Linked DNA regions of Homo sapiens. The protein of the gene in region 3 interacts with the protein of the main gene of each other region in a pairwise test. Each region holds a gene or a part of one and is shown on either strand. Other genes may lie near its edges.

What was found. Proteins that work in one complex are often made in the same cells at the same time.
Region 1: the proteins of MAGEC1 (region 3) and ECHDC2 interact in a two-hybrid assay, tested with the Homo sapiens proteins (one study listed by BioGRID and IntAct).
Region 2: the proteins of MAGEC1 (region 3) and ROCK2 interact in a two-hybrid assay, tested with the Homo sapiens proteins (one study listed by BioGRID).

Annotation. Positions count from the first base shown.
Region 1 is NC_000001.11:52,918,741-52,925,992, forward strand, and holds the start of ECHDC2 (enoyl-CoA hydratase domain-containing protein 2, mitochondrial), read right to left. Parts: upstream 3,001-7,252; 5' UTR 2,934-3,000; coding exon 2,813-2,933; exon of another isoform or gene 1-2,812.
Region 2 is NC_000002.12:11,208,637-11,215,674, forward strand, and holds part of ROCK2 (rho-associated protein kinase 2), read right to left. Parts: intron 7,010-7,038; coding exon 6,874-7,009; intron 6,777-6,873; coding exon 6,685-6,776; intron 6,451-6,684; coding exon 6,204-6,450; intron 5,828-6,203; coding exon 5,721-5,827; intron 3,205-5,720; coding exon 3,045-3,204; intron 1-3,044. UniProt on the Homo sapiens protein: Protein kinase which is a key regulator of actin cytoskeleton and cell polarity.
Region 3 is NC_000023.11:141,906,861-141,909,879, reverse strand, and holds the end of MAGEC1 (melanoma-associated antigen C1), read right to left. Parts: coding exon 1,047-3,019; 3' UTR 506-1,046; downstream 1-505.

The DNA of each region.
Region 1 (7,252 bases), on a different chromosome or scaffold from region 3:
TTAATTTATCATTGAAGAAAGAAACATTTGTAAAGCAAATTTAGTGTAGCCTAGGTGTACAGTGTTATAGAGTCTATAGTAGTGTACAGTAATGTCCTAGGCCAGGGGTCCCCAACCCCCGGGCTGTGGACCCATCCCAGTCTGTGGCCTGCTAGGAACTGGGCCACACAACAGGAGATGAGCAGCTTCATCTGTATTTACAGCAGCTCCCCATGGCTTGAATTACCACCTGAGTTCCACCTCCTATCAGATCAGTGGTGGCATTAGAATCTCATAGGAGTGCGAACCCTATTGTGAACTGTGCATGTGAGGAATCTAGGTTGTTGCGAGCTCCTTATGAGAATCTAATGCCTGATGATCTGAGGTGGAACAGTTTCATCCCCAAACCATCTGTCCGCCCGCAAGTCCATGGAAAAACTGTCTTTCATGAAAATAGTCCCTGGTGCCAAACCAGTCCCTGCTGTCCTAGGCCTTCACATTCACTCACCATTCACTCGCTGACTCACCCAGTGCAGCTTCCAGTCCTGCAAGCTCCATTTATGGTAACTGCCCAGTACAGGTGTACTATTTAAAAAATCTTTTAGACTGTATTTTTACTGTGCCTTTTCTATGTTCAGATACACATTTACCATTGTGTTACAGTTGCCTACAGTATTCAGCCCGGTACCATGCTGTCCAGGTTTGTATTCTAGGAGCAACAGGCTATACACCATGTAGCCTTGGTGTGCAGTAGGCTACCCCATCTAGGACTGTGTAGGTGCACTCTGTGATGCTCCCACAATGACCACAATCACCTAATGATGCATTTCTCAGAATGTAGCCCCGTTGTTAAGCAACACATGACTCTATGAGAAATAAAGCCGCTAAGAACAGTGAAGAATGGTTTACCACCCAACCTCAAGCTCAAAGGCAGCAGGTAAAATGTAACAGTGCTCTTGTGCCATCAGCCCCAGTGGAAGGCAGAACCTGCAGCTTCTAATATGAACATCAAATGACCCCAACTCATTCCCTGTGAGGGCTCCGTGTGTGATCTCATCCCCATGCCTCCTCTGCACTGTCATCTTGGTTTCTGTCTCTCCTTCTCTCACTGCCTTTTCCTGCCCTTTGAGCCCTCTGGCAGGGGCAGAGGCTTAATCTGCTGATCCTTGTCATTCTTTTTTGGATAAAATGATTCCCGATATTTGCAAGTGAGCCTAAAGGTCTTTAACCCATGATAATTTTGTGTTTACACATGTACAAGTCTGTATTTTGAGTCACTGAATTACTAGAAGAGCCAGTGATTACCTAATGGTTGAGAACACAGGCTTTGAAATCAGACCTGGTTCAAATAACTTAACCTTCTGTGCCTCAGTTTTTTAATCTGTAAAGTGGGGAGAATAATCTTGACTGTCTTAAGAGCTGTTGCCAGTTGGGTAGTGAACTAAGCATGAGATTGGGGGTATAAGGTTCAGCAATATTAACTGTTCAAGGAAATTCTCACCAAGTGGTGCAGTGGGACTCTAGGTGGCCTGTCCGTGTCCACTGAAGGTGGTAGATGCACACTTGGGAACAGTGGGCAACAGCAGGGAGCAAGGAACTGGATTTTATGGCAAAGCCCCGCTTCAAACTTGTTGTCAAGCCGGTAAAAAGGAAGCAATACTGCTGGGGAAGGGGCGGCAGGCGCCATGTCCGGCCACGAAGGTGGCAAGAAGCCACTGAAACAGCCCAAGAATGCAGGCCAAGGAGATGGACGAGGAAGATAAGGCTTTCAAGCAGAAACAAAAAGAGGAGCAGAAGAAACTCGAGGAGCTAAAATGGAAGGCCACGGGGAAGGGGCCCTTGGCCACAAGTGGAATTAAGAAATCTGGCAAAAAGTAAGCTGTTCCCTGTGCCTAAGGAGATGGTGACCCTTTATTTCATCAGTATTTAAACCTCTCTATTCCCTGCCATAACATCTTTTGCCACCTATGGCTGGAATTAAGTGTTGTCTTGGAGCTGTTGTACATTTAAGAATAAACTTTTGTTAAAAAAAAAAAAGAAGCAATACAACGAAATGTACAGTACAATGCCATCTGTGTATCAAATGCAGGAGACAGGGGATGAGATGCGGGGAGGAGACCCAAGGCAGGAGAAGCGCCTAGCCCTGATGGTTACCAGCAGAGGACTGAGGAGCGTTATCAGCACCACTGAATGCTCCAGAAGTTCAAACAACAACAACAACAAAAACGCAACACGCGATCAGAGGCGTTTTCTGCCAGTGACCCGCGAACTTTGCCCCCCACCCCTCGTCCCCGCTCCATACTATCCTTGATCTTGGCCAAAAGGCGGAGAAACAGCGAACTTTTCCCTGGAGCCAGAAGGACGCAAAGGTTCGCTAGCGGCCCAGGGCGGGCGCGCGGCTGGAGAGGCACCCTCCTCACTCTGCCCGCTGCCGCACTGGGCACTGGGACTGGCTCCGCTGCCTCCGCCCCCGAACCGGGCCAGGACCCTTGGCGGGGGAGGGGAACGCGCACTTAAACGCTCCTGGCCTGGGGGCCGCGGGGCCCAGTCCTACCCGTGCGGACCCCGCTCCCCCTTCCACACAGTCGGAAGACCCCAAAGGGCCTTTGAAGAGACCGAGGTTGCCAGAGGCCCCCCGCCCCCAGCTAGAGTCTGGAGCCACTAAGGCGGCCGCCCACCTCTCAGGCCTGGAGCGGTTTGGGGCGCCTAGAACTGGGAGGGAGGGACTGGGGATCGAATCCTTCAACGCACTGAGCGGCCCACCTGCCGGTCCCCCGCTGCCTCCGGCCTAGTCCCAGTCGCGTCATGCGCCGCCCCGGAACTGCACATTTACCTTGGTCCGGACCCGCCAGGGCGCGCACTTGGATCTCTGAGCCCCCGGCCGCCCCGTCGGAAGCGCAGCCGCGGGCCCGAAGGGGCCTCCAGGGGCGCAGGAGGCACAGAACGCGCAGCATCGGGGCGCAGGCTGGGAGTGAAGGTGCTTCTCCGGCCCTGCACCGTCTCGGCTCCCGCTGAGAGCTCGCAGTTCCGGCGTCGGGCGAAGCCTTCGCCAATTGCTCCACCTATGGGCCAAGCGTCTGTTGCCTCCTTCCGCACCTCCCGGGGACAGGGAGACTTGAGCGGAGGAGGTCGGGGGAAGCCCAGCTCCTCTGTGTGATTTGGTGTAACTCTGTCAACCTCCCAGCGTCAGTGTTTTAATCCTGTAAAATGGGGATAATAGTGACTACCCCGTGGTGGTGTGAAGATTAAATGGGGTGTGTGAACCTTGCTTGCACATATGCTCAATTTCATTTTTTAAATGAAATGACATTTAATGAGTCCCTTGAGCGTGTCTACACTTGCGAACCTCACTGCTTCACCTCCCATTTGCGCCTCACTTTTTTTTTTTTTTTTTTTTTTTGAGACGGAGTCTCGCTGTGTCGCCCAGGTTGGAGTGCTGTGCCTTGATCTTGGCTCACTGTAACCTCCGCCTCCGGGTTCAAGCGATTCTCCTGCCTCAACCTCCCAAGTAGCTGGGATTACAGGGACGCGCCACCACGCCCAACTAATTTTTTTTGTATTTTTAGTAGAGGCAGGGTTTCACCATGACGAAACCCTGTCTCTGTTAAACATTCAAAAAAATTAGCTGGGCGTGGTGGCGGGCGCCTGTAATCCCAGCTACTTGGGAGGCTGAGGCAGGAGAATCACTTGAACTCGGAAGGCACAGGTTCAGTGAGCTGAGATCGCGCCACTGCACTCCAGGCTGGGCAATGAGCGAAACTGCGTCCCAAAAAAAAAAATTATTCTCTTAAACACAGTATATACAAAGCACTCTCACATTGCTGATGTGAATGTCTTTAAATGAAAAGCAACTGGTAATTTATATCAAAATTATAAATGCACAAGCTCATTGCCCCAGAAATTCCAATTTTAGAAATTTAACCTACAGATAAATCCACACAGCTGTGAAATGACACGTGTTCATGGCTGTACATTGCAGCATTGTTTATAATAGCAAAAGACTGGAAGCACATGGTGCTGTCATGTGCTTCTGGTGAGGCCTCAGGAAGCTTACAATCATGGCTGAAGGTGACAGGGATCCAGCATGTCACATGGCGAGAATAGGAACAAGAAAATTAGGTGGGGAGGTCCCAGTTTATCGCCAAGGGGATGGTGCTAAACCATTCACAAGGGATCTGTCCCCATGATCCAGTCACCTCCCAACAGGGCCCACCTCCAACATTGGGAATCATATTTCAACGTGAGATTTGGAGGGATCCAACACCCAAACTATATCACAGTCTCAATATCCATCAATAGAGGGTTGGTTAAATAAATTATGGGGCTGTGTGTGGTGGCTCACCCTATTATTCCAACACTTTGGAAGGCCAAGGCAGGTAGGTCCCTGGAAGCCAGGAGTTTGAAACCAGCCTGGGAAATATAGCAAGCCCCTATCTCTACTTAAAAAAAAAAAAAAGGTACATCAATAATCTGAATACTATGCAGCTATAACAAAACACAGGAAACTGTTTATGCATTGATATGAAACAATCTTCAAAATCTATTGGTATATGAAACAAGTCAAAATGCAGAATAGTGTGTAAAGAAAGCTAAAATTTGGCCGGGTCTGGTGGCTCATGCTCATGAACCTAGCACTTTGGGAGGCCGAGACAGGAGGATTGCTTGAGGCCAGGAGTTCAAGACCAACCTAGCCAACATAGCAAAACCCCACCTCTATTGAAAGAAATAATAAAGAAAACAAAAATTTGTGTTAACAAGGGGGATAAGAGTATGCATGTGTATATTTGATTGTATTTACATAAAACATCTTTGGAAGGATAGGGAAGAAGAACCGAGAGGCTGGGAATAAGGGTAAGAGAGACAAGTTTTACGGTTTGACCTGTTATACGTTTTTGGACACAGGATGTTGTTGTTGCCCAGATTGGAGTGCAGTGGCAGTATCTTGGCTCACTGCAGCTTCTGCCTCCCGGGCTCAGGTGATCCTTCCACCTCACCCTCCTGAGTAGCTGGGACCACAGGTACATGCCACAACATTGGCTAATTTTTGTATTTCTTGTAGAGACGGGGTTTTGCCATGTTGCCAAGGTTGGTCTCGAACTCCTGAGCTCAGGCGATTTGTCCACCTTGGCCTTCCAAAGTGCTGGGATTACAGGTGTGAACCACCATGCCTGGCCCCTTTTATACTTTTTGAATCTTGATTTTTGTTTTAAGTATAACTTACTCAAAATAAATAATGAAAATGAAAACAAAGCACAATAACAAAAATTAAAAACATGCCTTAGCAAAAATAAAACTAATATATACACAAAATCAAAACATACAAACTAGCCAGGCCCGGTGGCTCATGCCTGTAATCCCAGCACTTTAGGAGGCTGAGGTGGGTGGGTCACCTGAGGTCAGGAGTTCAAGACCAGCCTGGCCAACATGGTGAAACCCTGTCTCTACTAAAAATACAAAAATTAGCCAGGCGTGGTTGTGGGCAGCTGTAATCCCAGCTACTCAGGAGGCTGAGGTGCAAGAATCGCTTGAACCCAGGAGGTGGAGGTTGTAGTGAGCTGAGATCACACCACTGCACTCCAACCTGGGCAACAGAGTGAGATTCTGTCTTAAAAAAAAAAAAGAAGCAAAAACAAAACATACAAACTATAATTGGGTATAAGATTAAAAGAAAAACCTTCCCTCCTCCATATTCCATGCATTTATTGTATTCTATTTTATTGAGACAGGGTCTCACTCTGTTGCCCACATTGGAGTACAGTGGTGCAGTCAGTTCACTACAACCTCAGACTCCTGGGCTCAGGGGATCCTCCCGTCTCAGCCTTCCGAGTAGCTGGGACTACAGGAGTGGGCCACCACACTTGGCTCATTGTTAAATTTTTTGTAGAGACAGAGGTCTCCCTATGTTGCCAGGCTGGTCTCAAACACCTGGCCTCAAGTGATCCTCCCACCTCAGCCTCCCAAAGTGCTGGGATTACAGGTGTGAGCCCCCATGCCTGGCATCCACCCATTTAAAAAGATTTTTCTTGTTTTTTCTTCTTTTTTTTTAGAGATAGGGAGCTATGTTGCCCAGGTTGGTCTTGAATTCTTGGGCTCAATCAATCCTCCCATTTTGGCCTCCCAAAGTGCTGGGATTACAGGCATGAGCCACTGTGCCTCGCTGCTTTTTGTCTTTTTGTATTAACAGAAAAGGTCTCACTATGCTGTCCAGGCTGGAGTGCAGTGGCTATTCACAGGCATAATCGTAGCTCACTGCAGCCTTGAACTCCTGGACTCAAGCAGCCTTTCTGCCTCAGCTCCTCAAGTAGATGGGATTACAGTCTCGTACCACCACACCCAGCTTAAAATGATATTTATTGTATTTTATCTGGCATTTCTGGGTGTTTTTTTTTGGTATACTTATTCATGCCACAAAGTAAGTGGTACTTATATAAGTGTACAGTGATTTTCCAGGTTCCTTTCTAACATAGCTTGCTTAAATTCACAGGTCGACTAATGTTTCATTTCATGTGCATGCTAAGTGAAGCTGGTTAGTGATGACCATAAGCAGGTGGAGAAGCTTTCAATATTTTACTTATTTTATCAGTACTCCTGATTTTATAAATGATGAGGCTCATTAACCCCATTCCTACTCAAATCTCCTGATAAACTTGGTTATAATAGGGCTTCATGGGGATCCAAACATTTTTAATAATGTTTTGAAGCATCTTGGTGTGGGACAAACAGCTCAGGCTACCCCAGAGCCCCACATCCAATGACTTAGAAAAGTCTGTGTTTTATAGTGGGAAAAGTTTGGATTATTTAGTCCTTCACATTGGAAAGGGAAGTGTTTTTTCTCAGTCTTTTCGGTATTAACAAATACCTTTTATATTACTATCTATCCCCTCTGCCCTCTATGGACTCTTATTTTGAAAGCAATATCCAGTGGACAGCCAGGATTTGTTACATAACAATTAATCTTGACCTTAGGACTTGTTGTTCTATTAGGTTGGTAACTTTGTCTGATCCACCAATCATATTGCTGTCTTGTCAGTCCATCAGTTTCAAGAAACAACTGTACATGTCAGTGCCCTGATTTGTGTTTGTTTTTCTTTTTTTTTTTTTTTTGTTTCGTTTTGGTTTTTTAGAGACGTGGTCTTGGTATGTTGCCCAGGCTGGAGTGCAGTGGCTATTCAGAGGTGTAATCATAGCACATTTGTAGCCTTGAATTCCCAGGCTCAAGTGATCTTTCTGCCGAAGCCTCCTGAGCAGATGGGAGGCGTGCATCACTGAGCGC
Region 2 (7,038 bases), on a different chromosome or scaffold from region 3:
GCCCAGGCCGGAGTGCAGTGACGCAATCTCAGCTCTTTGTAACCTCCTGGATTCAAGCAATTCTCGTGCCTCGGCCTCCAGACATAACTCGGATTACAGGCGTGTGCCACCACACCCAGCTAAGTTTTGTATTTTTAGTAGAGATGGGGTTTTGCCATGTTGGCCAGGCTGGTCTCAAACTCCTGGCCTCATGCAATCCACCCGCCTCGGCCACCCAAAGTGCTGGAATTACAGGCATGAGCCACTGCACCTGGCCTTAATTTTCAATTTAATATTTTCACTTTCATACTTGAAAATTAGGAGTTTCATTCACAGGGTGTAAAAATGTATCACACTCTGCAATATTACATCTATTCTAATGGAAGCAAGATAGTTCTACCTTTATTTATATTCTACAAGATGCTTACATCTTTAAACAAAGGTTTCTTATATTCTACTGCTTACTGCTATTCTATGTCTCTCAGTGTTACTATTTTTACCTTAAAACAATCCAGGTAGATTCTATGATCTCCATAGGACTTTCCATGTTAACACATTATTATGCAGGTGTTGAAAAATATGTTTTAGGGAGGTGGTAAAGGACAAGACTCTGGAACCAAACTTTCTGAGCTTAAACCCTGGGTCTAACACTGTTTGACTGGGCAAGTAATTCACCTCTCTGGACCTGTTTCCTTATCTCCAGAATAGGGATAACAGCACCTAGGGAGGTTGTGAAGATTTAATACATGTGTACCACTTAAATGCTGCCTGGCATATGGCAAGCACTTGGTAAGTGCTTATTATTTAAGCAGAATTTTTAATGACCAAGGAAACGCTCACAATGTCTTGTTTTTTAAAAAGCAAAACGGTATAGAAAGTGGAGAAAATTTACAAAATAGTATCCTAACTCATAGGATTATGAGTAATCTTTGCTTTTTTCTTTATACTTTCCTGTGTTTTCTAAATTATTTACAATAAATTTTTAATCTATTTTACTTATCAGAAGGCAAAGTTCCAAGTGATTTCAGTGTTAAATGTAAGTCATCACAGTTAAAGGATTATCTTGATATACTGGTTAGTACTTCAGTTCACATTCAATTAAGGCTCCTCTGCTTTTTCATAATTAATGCTCAACATCTAATTATCATCTATTATAAAGTTGTATTAGGTAAAAATTAAACCTATGAATATTTAGTGTTTAATGAATGGTCTTCAAAAGTGCAGAAAAATGAAACATTCCCCATGTAGTACTAATAATAGCATTTCTAAACACTTTACATGTTTTATTGCACTTGATTTTCACAACAACGTAACAATACTGTAATTGTCCCTTCACAGGAAACAAGACACAGAAAGTTTAAATAACTAGACAAGGTCACATAGCTAGTAATTATTTGGTGAGCCATGTTCTTAATCCAAGGAGCCAATGACATGCAACAGAAGGACCAAAGGCTTTAGCCTCAGATTTGAAACCATCTATAATATGTAACAGTTTTGTGTACTCATGTGTAAAATATGGAAGTCATCATGTATCTTACATTAGCGTTTTAATAGTTTGAAAAAAATGGTAGTTAATACTGAATTGGTTCATTTTTATCAATTCAGAGAATAATCACTAAACAAATGTCCTCATTTAACAAAAAAAACAATCACCATAATGTAGGCATTGAGAATAGAAAGAGGCATTACTGAGATAATGAAAATAGTCCTTTTTTTTTTTTTGAGATGGGGTCTTGCTCTGCTACTGAGGCTCAAGTGCAGTGATGCAATCATGGCTCACTGCAGCCTTGAACTCCTGGGCTCAAGCAATGTTCCTGCATCATTGCAGGAATACTGAGAGTCCTACTCCCAAGTAGCTCTGACTATAGGCGCACGCGACTACATCCAGCTAATTTTTCTATTTTTTGTAGAGATAGGGTCTTGCTATGTTGCCCATGCCGGTCTCAAACTCCTGGGCTCAAGAGATCCTCCCACCCTGGCCTCCCAAAGTGCTAGGATTACAGATGTGAGCCACCATGCCTAGCCTGATATATTCTTTATCTTGTTTTGAACAGTAGTTATGTGAGCATATCACGAAATGTCAAAAATGTTTACATTTTATTATTGCATGTAAATTATACCTCAATGAAAATAATTGAACTCTGTCTTCTAGGCCACAGACAAGGAAATATGGCCCAGTAACTTTCTCCCTTACAATTAGATTTTTGTAAATAAAGTACTCATTTCATTTCTTATCATCCTGATTTAGTGCCTTAAACTACACTGATTTTTACTAAGAAAATCTACCATTTTAATTACATGCAATAATTAAAAGGCTATTTTTTCTAAGTTAGTTACTCATGTAATGCTTCAATATGAAAATAAATTTCTGTTCAAGAGTTTTAAGCCTTTCACAAGAATAGCTTAAAGTACTGATTTTCTCTGGAATTTCAGAGTCATTATAAACAGTCAGTTTGGAAAAGAAAAAATTATCCTAAGACAATTCCAGGATAAAGTCTAGTTTATGGGAAGGTTAACTTTGTTATCTATTAGTATTATATGGCTTCGACCAAATCTGGCTAGTATCTTCATCATGTTAGAGATCAAAATACTCAGTGAACTTATATTCTAGTTAGACCAGCTATTACTTTTAAATTCTTACCTTGCATAAACTGGCAAGAATTTTATAATACAAAACTCTTGTATTACAAGAATTACCTGTATCAATAGTAACAGGTATACAGCGTGTGAAGTTCAGATATTCCTTCTTACTACTGATACACGTATACCGAGTGGTACAGATATTACCAGGTATATAATATTGAGAAATATTAATTTATCTCTGATCTAAAAATCTGATCATGTAATTTTGTGTTTGGGTCTTACTATCTTAGAAATGATTACTGTAATGATACAAAGGAAAAATAATAGAATATCTATGTAAAGCTTCCCTAATAGTTTTTTTCCCTCCAATTCCCAATATTTGACAATGAAATATAAAAAAAAATGTTTCAAAACCAAAAAGCTAACACAGAATCAATTCTTAGGAAGACGCTGCTGGAAAACCCTCTTTAAAAAATGCATACCTTTCATGGCTTCTGATTTGGCTTCTTCGATGGACTCATAGATCTTATTTTTATCTGCTAGTCGTGCCTTTGTGGCCTTATGTTCAGCTTCTTCTTGTTCTAGGCTCTGCTGTATAACTTTTAGTTGGTATGTCATATCTATTTCCATGTTGCTTTTTTCCTATTAAATATTTAAAATGCAGCTATCAACAAAAAAGAGACTAGCTCACAATTTCAAAAGCTTTCTAATTTTTTTTTTTTTTTGAGACAGAGTCTTGCTCTGTTACCCAGGCTGAAGTGCAGTGGTTTGATTATGGCTCATTGCAGCCTCAACCTCCCCAGGCTCAAGCAATCCTCCCACCTTGGCCTCCAAAGTAGCTGGGACTATAGAAGTTTGTCACCACTCCTGGCTAATTTATTTTATTTTATTTTTAATGTAGAGACAAGGTCTCATTAAACACTGCCTACACTGATCTTGAACTCCTGGGCTCAAGTGATCCTCCCGACTCAGCCTCCCACAGTGCTGAGATTATAGGTGTGGGCCATGGTGCTCAACCTTAACTTGTTTTTTAACAGGCTTAACTAGAATGTTCAGTATTTCCCCTCCCGTCTTCACTCAAACCTTTTAGAATAGTAATCTATATACTCTACTTCTCTACTTCCCACTGTACCCAACAGTCTACACCACCACTCTGCTGTTCTGAGATCTGTATCAAGCTCACTTAATCTCAACAAAAAGACCAATGCTATTCTCAATATCAAATTCTAAAGACCCTTTTCAGTCTTATTTGAACTCACTGCCCCCCTTAAAACTATCCCTTGGCATTGCCGACCTTGTACTTAGTTGGTTCTCTCCATTCTGCTTGCATCCTTTCTGTTGCTCCTGAAGCTTTCCCAGCTGTCCCTTAAATGTTGGTGATCTAAGCCCCAATACTCCTCCTATTTTCTACATAAACCCCAAAGGTTTTCTAATTCTTTGATTTTTATAGTTCATATCATAAATATGATAAAGGCTTTTTTCCAAATAAAGCCTTTCATACAAAAAATGATTTCTCAAACCACATAATCCACCAACAGAGTAATCTACTCTGTCCTAAAAAAGAAAAAAAAAAATCACTACTTCACACAGTCTTTTCCCAGATGGGCTATTCCACTCACATGATTTCAGCTACTTACATACCAATGACTCAAATATTTCTAACTTCTACTACTATAGCCTACTGCAGTGCAGACATGCTAATTTGGCTGTCCCATAGGTACCCTCAAACTTAAGAGGACTAAAGTGGGTTTATCACTGTCTCATGAGCTATTTTTCCTTTATTCTTTATTAACAGCATCACTATATATCTTGTCACAACCTACAAATCTGGGACTCATCTTTGACTGCTACTCATATGCCATATCTAATCAACTATTAAGTGCTGCCAAATATTCCTCTTCCAAATATTTCTGAGTCTTCCAATTTTTCCAACCTTTTAATGGCTGTACTAAGTCTCCCATTATTCCTTATCAGCATTACTGAAAAAGTCTACTGACCAGTCTCTCTACCTCTAGTCTTGTCCTCCTCAAATCTTTTCTCCACACAGTATACAGCGATCTATCTTTAATGTACCTCTAATAAGATCATCCAATTTAAAGCCCTTAAGTGGCTAGCCCATTACTACATTCAAAATTTCTTAATAGAGTATTCGCTATCTTGCATGATCTACCTCATGCCGAGCTCTGTAGCCTCATTCTGACCACTGAATTCCTCATGTCCTTACATAACAACCACATTGTGATCTTCAGGCCAATCTAACCTGATGCCTTTTTCTTTTTTAAGTTTCACTGGAACGTAGCCACATCCATTCCTTCATGAATCACAGCAGGGCTGAACAGTTGCAAGACCATATAACCCACAGAAGATAAAATATTTATTACCATGCCTTTAAACGATTAAAATTTGCTGACTCCCACTCTATACTCCAGAAAACAAACAATGCCTTTTTTATTTTCCATCTTCTATGTCTTTGCTCATGCTGTTCTCCCTAACTTAGAATGTGCCTTTGCCCTACGGACCTATCCTGCTGTCAGGTTAGGGATGCATCCCATACACCCAATACATATACCCTGTCCATAAGTCTTATCATTCTATTTGCCATACTGTCATTAGAATTATCTTTGTGCTTTATTATTACTTTTAAACTTAACTATTCAACTGTGACATTATTCAAGGCAAGGACTGCATCCTGATATTTCTACCACATATAACACACTGAATATTTAGCTGAGTAAATAAATAAGTGAATGAAAATAAAATGCTAACTGCATAGACTCTAGAAATCATCCCTTTCTTAGAGTATTTTAAAAGAAAAACTTCTAAATGCCAAAAGTCATGGTGACTTTATATATGGCATTTTTAAGACATGTTATGAGTCGAAATTTGAGTTTTCCTTGGGTCCTAGAGAGATCCTCATTATCTACACTCCAGGATGGGTCCCCTTACTTCATGAGCAACCAGCATGCTGAGGGCTGCTTGTACAGTGTTATGGTAAGCCTGCAGATACATCTCTTATCTACACATCAAGTCCAAATCAAAAGGAATCCATGAGCATGTGGAAATATTCCAGTTAGTGACTTCCCTTAGTTTAGAATAACTTTTCTAACCTGAAAGTCTACTGTCAATTTTCTTATGCAAAAATATAAAACATGTTTTACCTTTTCCAAATCAGTAAATCTCTCCTGAAGTTGTCTCTTCTCCAGTTCTACTTTCGCTAGTAAGATTTTGCCGTTCTTTAAATCTTCTTCTAGGCCACATATTCTACCTAAAAATTGCAACGTTTTTTTAAAACATTAAACCCACAAAGTATATACATTCAATTAGGAATAAAAAGTTTGCAAGCCACCTTCTATTTTGGAGCTGTTGTTTGTGAGCAGAAGTTTTATACTTGTTGGTATTGTGCTTTATAGTTAATTCAAATGGAATCCAATCTACTACCTGAAGAGTTTAATACTTAAAATCATACTATTTGAAATTAAATCTTTTGTTCCTAAAATTTTGTATCAGTGTATTTCTAATATTCTAACTTTACATAATAGTATATTCAGAAATGTCCAATCCAGCACACTATCCATCATCTAAAGTTATTTTTAAAATAAGAATCATCAAAATTAATTCAAGTGCAACCACGACTTCAATACCTTGTAAATCATTAATTATCTCTGATCCATGGGTTCGATCCCTCCTTTCAGATTCTAGAGCTGACTGAAGATTGATAAATTCCTTTTCAAGTTTTAACTTGGCAGTCTCCAGCAGGCAGTTTTTATCTTGTAGATCTCTATTGTTAGATTCCAGCTGCTGAATCTGTTTTGAACTTTCTGCCTGGGTTTTCCTTAACCGGGCTGCAGTATCAGACTCTGTTCGCAGTAAAGCATTGGTTTCATCCAGCTGTTATTCCATTCAAAACCAAACAACAACAAACAAACACACATGTATGTAATGAAAATAAGTCAATGTATTCCCCCATTAGAAACTATTTAAAATAAACAAAAACCTAAAAATATTTTCCAAATGATTTCTAAAATTAGAGGTAAAGGCCTTTTGCAACACTGTCAATTAAAACTAATGTTATCGCGTTAAAAATAAAACCCAGTATCTTTACTACAAATTAGATCCACCTACTTGTCTCTGGAGTTGATTCACTTTCTCAGTGGATATTTGAGAGTTTTGATTTCTTTTTTTCAAATCTTCAAGTTGATCTTTTAAGCTGTTAACTATGATAAAAAGCATTTCAGTGGCAAGCTTAGCATAACACACATACACACACTTAATTTTTTTCTTGATGAGTAATTAATATTCTACACCACAAACCATCATTTTCCAAATTTCGTTTTTTGTCTGCTTCATGATCAGCTTTCCTCTGATATTCTGCATTTTTGTGCTGAAGAAGCGCCTTTTCTCTTTCTAACTGTCTTAATGCTGATTCCACACTTTTCCGTAAGGTAATCTGAAATAATGCTTAAAGTTATTATCAAA
Region 3 (3,019 bases):
AACTTGCAGATGATGGGTATCAATCACCTAGTCCTTGCACTGTGTTCAAGCTCACCAGTTACAGAGCCACAGAACACCTTCCATTAATTCTCCGTGTGGAGACTCCTCTCTGATTCATCCTCCACCCAGAGGGAACTGCTCAAGTGGTTTTCCTTTCCAGGCTTTTCTCTCACCTTCTGAGAGTCTGGGCCCTGCCACCACCCAGCTTCATAACGATCAGCTCCCACAGAAGCACCTACAGTTGCCCAAAGCCCAAAACTGCCTTAGCTCAGGGCCTTTTTAATCAAAGGCTCCATCTGGAGTCTCACCTCCCCACTCCTTTTTAAACTTATTCTTTAGATTGTAGAGAAAATCTTACCACATTCCTGATATGGCTTCTGGACCTACACTCTACCGTTTTAGGGTTAGGGATGAGTCTTGCTTTTAATGGTAACTTCACTACTAACAGTAATTTCTATGAGCAAATGCTGATACAATGTTCATCAAATAAATGAGTCACTGACACTTTTATTTATTACAGTTTACTTTCTTCTACTTTCTTACGTAAGCCAAGCAAACCAGGTATGTATCTTTAGTTTTCAAGAACAACAGACTAAAGGACCTGAGGAAATGCAAACATTAACAATCCTTTACTTTATTCCACTATTTAACTGCAGAGTTCCTTCACAGTTTCAAGAAAATTCCTACAGTAACACCACATTAACCTGTGACACATCACAAAATGAGGCAGAAGGTTTTCCCAATGTGGTGTGTTTGGGTGTGTTTTTGTTTTTACAAAATATCAAACTGTTACTCTTAAACCAGAAAAACAGCAATACATGTGCGACTCATGTGCATAAACTAGGATTCTGAAGCTATTTAAACCTGTTATTAATAGGAAAAGCATTTGAAAAATACCCAAAAGTAAAACAGGTAAACCCCATAACTACCCATATGGAACAGAAATGCAAATAGCACTGTGTTCTCTCCAGCCTCAACCAGGCCCTCCACCACGTAGAAACTCGACTGCCCCCTTCAAACTCAGAGGGAAGAATCTGCCCTAGACTTCACTCAGAAGAGAAGCTGGGGGACATGACACTGGAGCTTGCACTTTCTGTGGCAGTCGAATCATCTGTGGTGTCAATTATGGCCTGGGCTCTCTCTTCCACATCTTTCAAAGCATCCTTGTAAGAGGATGGAAAGGTAATAGGGACGGTATTCTTTAGCATGGCCAAAAACTCTACTACTTTCCTCTTAATGACTTCTGAATGAGCTCTTGGACCCCACAGGAATTCGTAACGAGGAGGAGAAGAGTTGGGCACCTCCCGGTACTCTAGGTAATGTTCCTGCACCCAAACTTTAGTGAGGAGCTCCCTGGGCTCCCCAAAGGCAAAGTGCTCCCTCCCAGCACGCACCCCTATTCCACTCAGCACATCCCAGATGACCTCCTCAGAGGCATAGGTGCCCTTTATGAAGATGATACTCAGAATAAGAATCAGGAGGCGGTTCTGGGACATGCCCTGCTCATCACTCAGACACCCCTCAGAGGTGAGGTCTAATGTGTTTACAAAGACATAGGAGTCATCAGGGTCCACTTCTCTCAGGGAAATGCCAAAAAGTATCTCTATGAACTCACGGGCTTTCCTGAAGATCACAGGAAAGTAGCCCGTGTACCTGCTGATGACATTCGTCAGCATCTCTGCCTTTGTGATAGGCTGCTTCACTTGATATTTGAGGAGAAGAAACCGCGCCAACTCGTCCACCTTTTCATCCAGTGTATAAGTGAACAAGGGCTCGCTCTCTATCAAGGACTCGCTGTCTGTCAAGGAATCACTCTCTAGCAAGGTGTCTGAGGAACTTGTATATTCATCTACTGGGCTGCTGGACTCTTCACTGAATGGGCTCAATGAAGTGGAGGAGGAGAAGGAGATCACAGGACTCTGGAGAGGACTCTCAGGGGAACTCTTGGAAAGACTCGATGAAGTGGAGGAGGGGAAGGAGCTCACAGGAGAACTCTGGGAAAGACTCGATGAAGTGGAGGAGGGGAAGGAGCTCACAGGACTCTGGAGAGGAGACTGGGCAGGCCCCTCAGGAGGACTCTGAGGACTCTCATGGGAACTTTGGAGAAGACTCGCTAAAGTGTAGGAGAAGAAGGAGCTGACAGGTCTCTGGAGAGGAGACTGAGCAGGCCCCTCAGGAGGACTCTGAGGACTCTCAGGGAAACTCTGGGGAAGACTCAAAGAAGTGGAGGAGGAGCAGATACTCACAGGACTCTGGAGAGAAGACTGGAAGTCCTCCCCCTGAGGAGGAAACTGAGGAAAGTGGAGAGGAGAGAGGGAGTCCTCCCACTCAGGAGGACTCTGAGGAAAATGGAGAGAAGACAGGGAGTCCTCTCCCTCAAGAGGACTCTGAGGAATTTGGAGAGGAGACAGGGAATCCTCCCCCTCAGGAGCACTCTCAGGACTCTGGAGAGGAGATTGGGAGTGCATCCCCTCAGGAGGGCTCTGAGGACTATGGAGAGGAGACTGGACAGGCCCCTCAGGAGGACTCTGAGAACTCTCAGGGAAACTCTGGGGAAGACTGGATGGAGTGGAGGAGGAGCAGATGCTCACAGGGCTCTGGAGAGAAGACTGGAATTCCTCCCCCTGAAGAGGACTCTGAGGAAAGTAGAGAGGAGACATGGAGTCCTCCCCCTGAGGAGGGCTCTGAGGAAAGTAGTGAGGAGACAGGGAGTCCTCCCCCTGAGGGCTCTGAGGAAAGTAGTGAGGAGACAGGGAGTCCTCCCCCTGAGGAGGGCTCTGAGGAAAGTAGTGAGGAGATAGGGAGTCCTCCCCCTGAGGAGGGCTCTGAGGAAAGTAGTGAGGAGACAGGGAGTCCTCCCACTCAGGAAGACTTGGAACAATCTGGAGAGGAGAATGGGTATTCTCCCCTTCAGGAGGACTCTGAGGAATCTGGAGAGGAGACTGGGGAAAACCCTCAAAAGTACTTTGAGTACACTCAGGGGAACTCTGGAAAAGACTCAATAAAGTGGAGGAGGAGG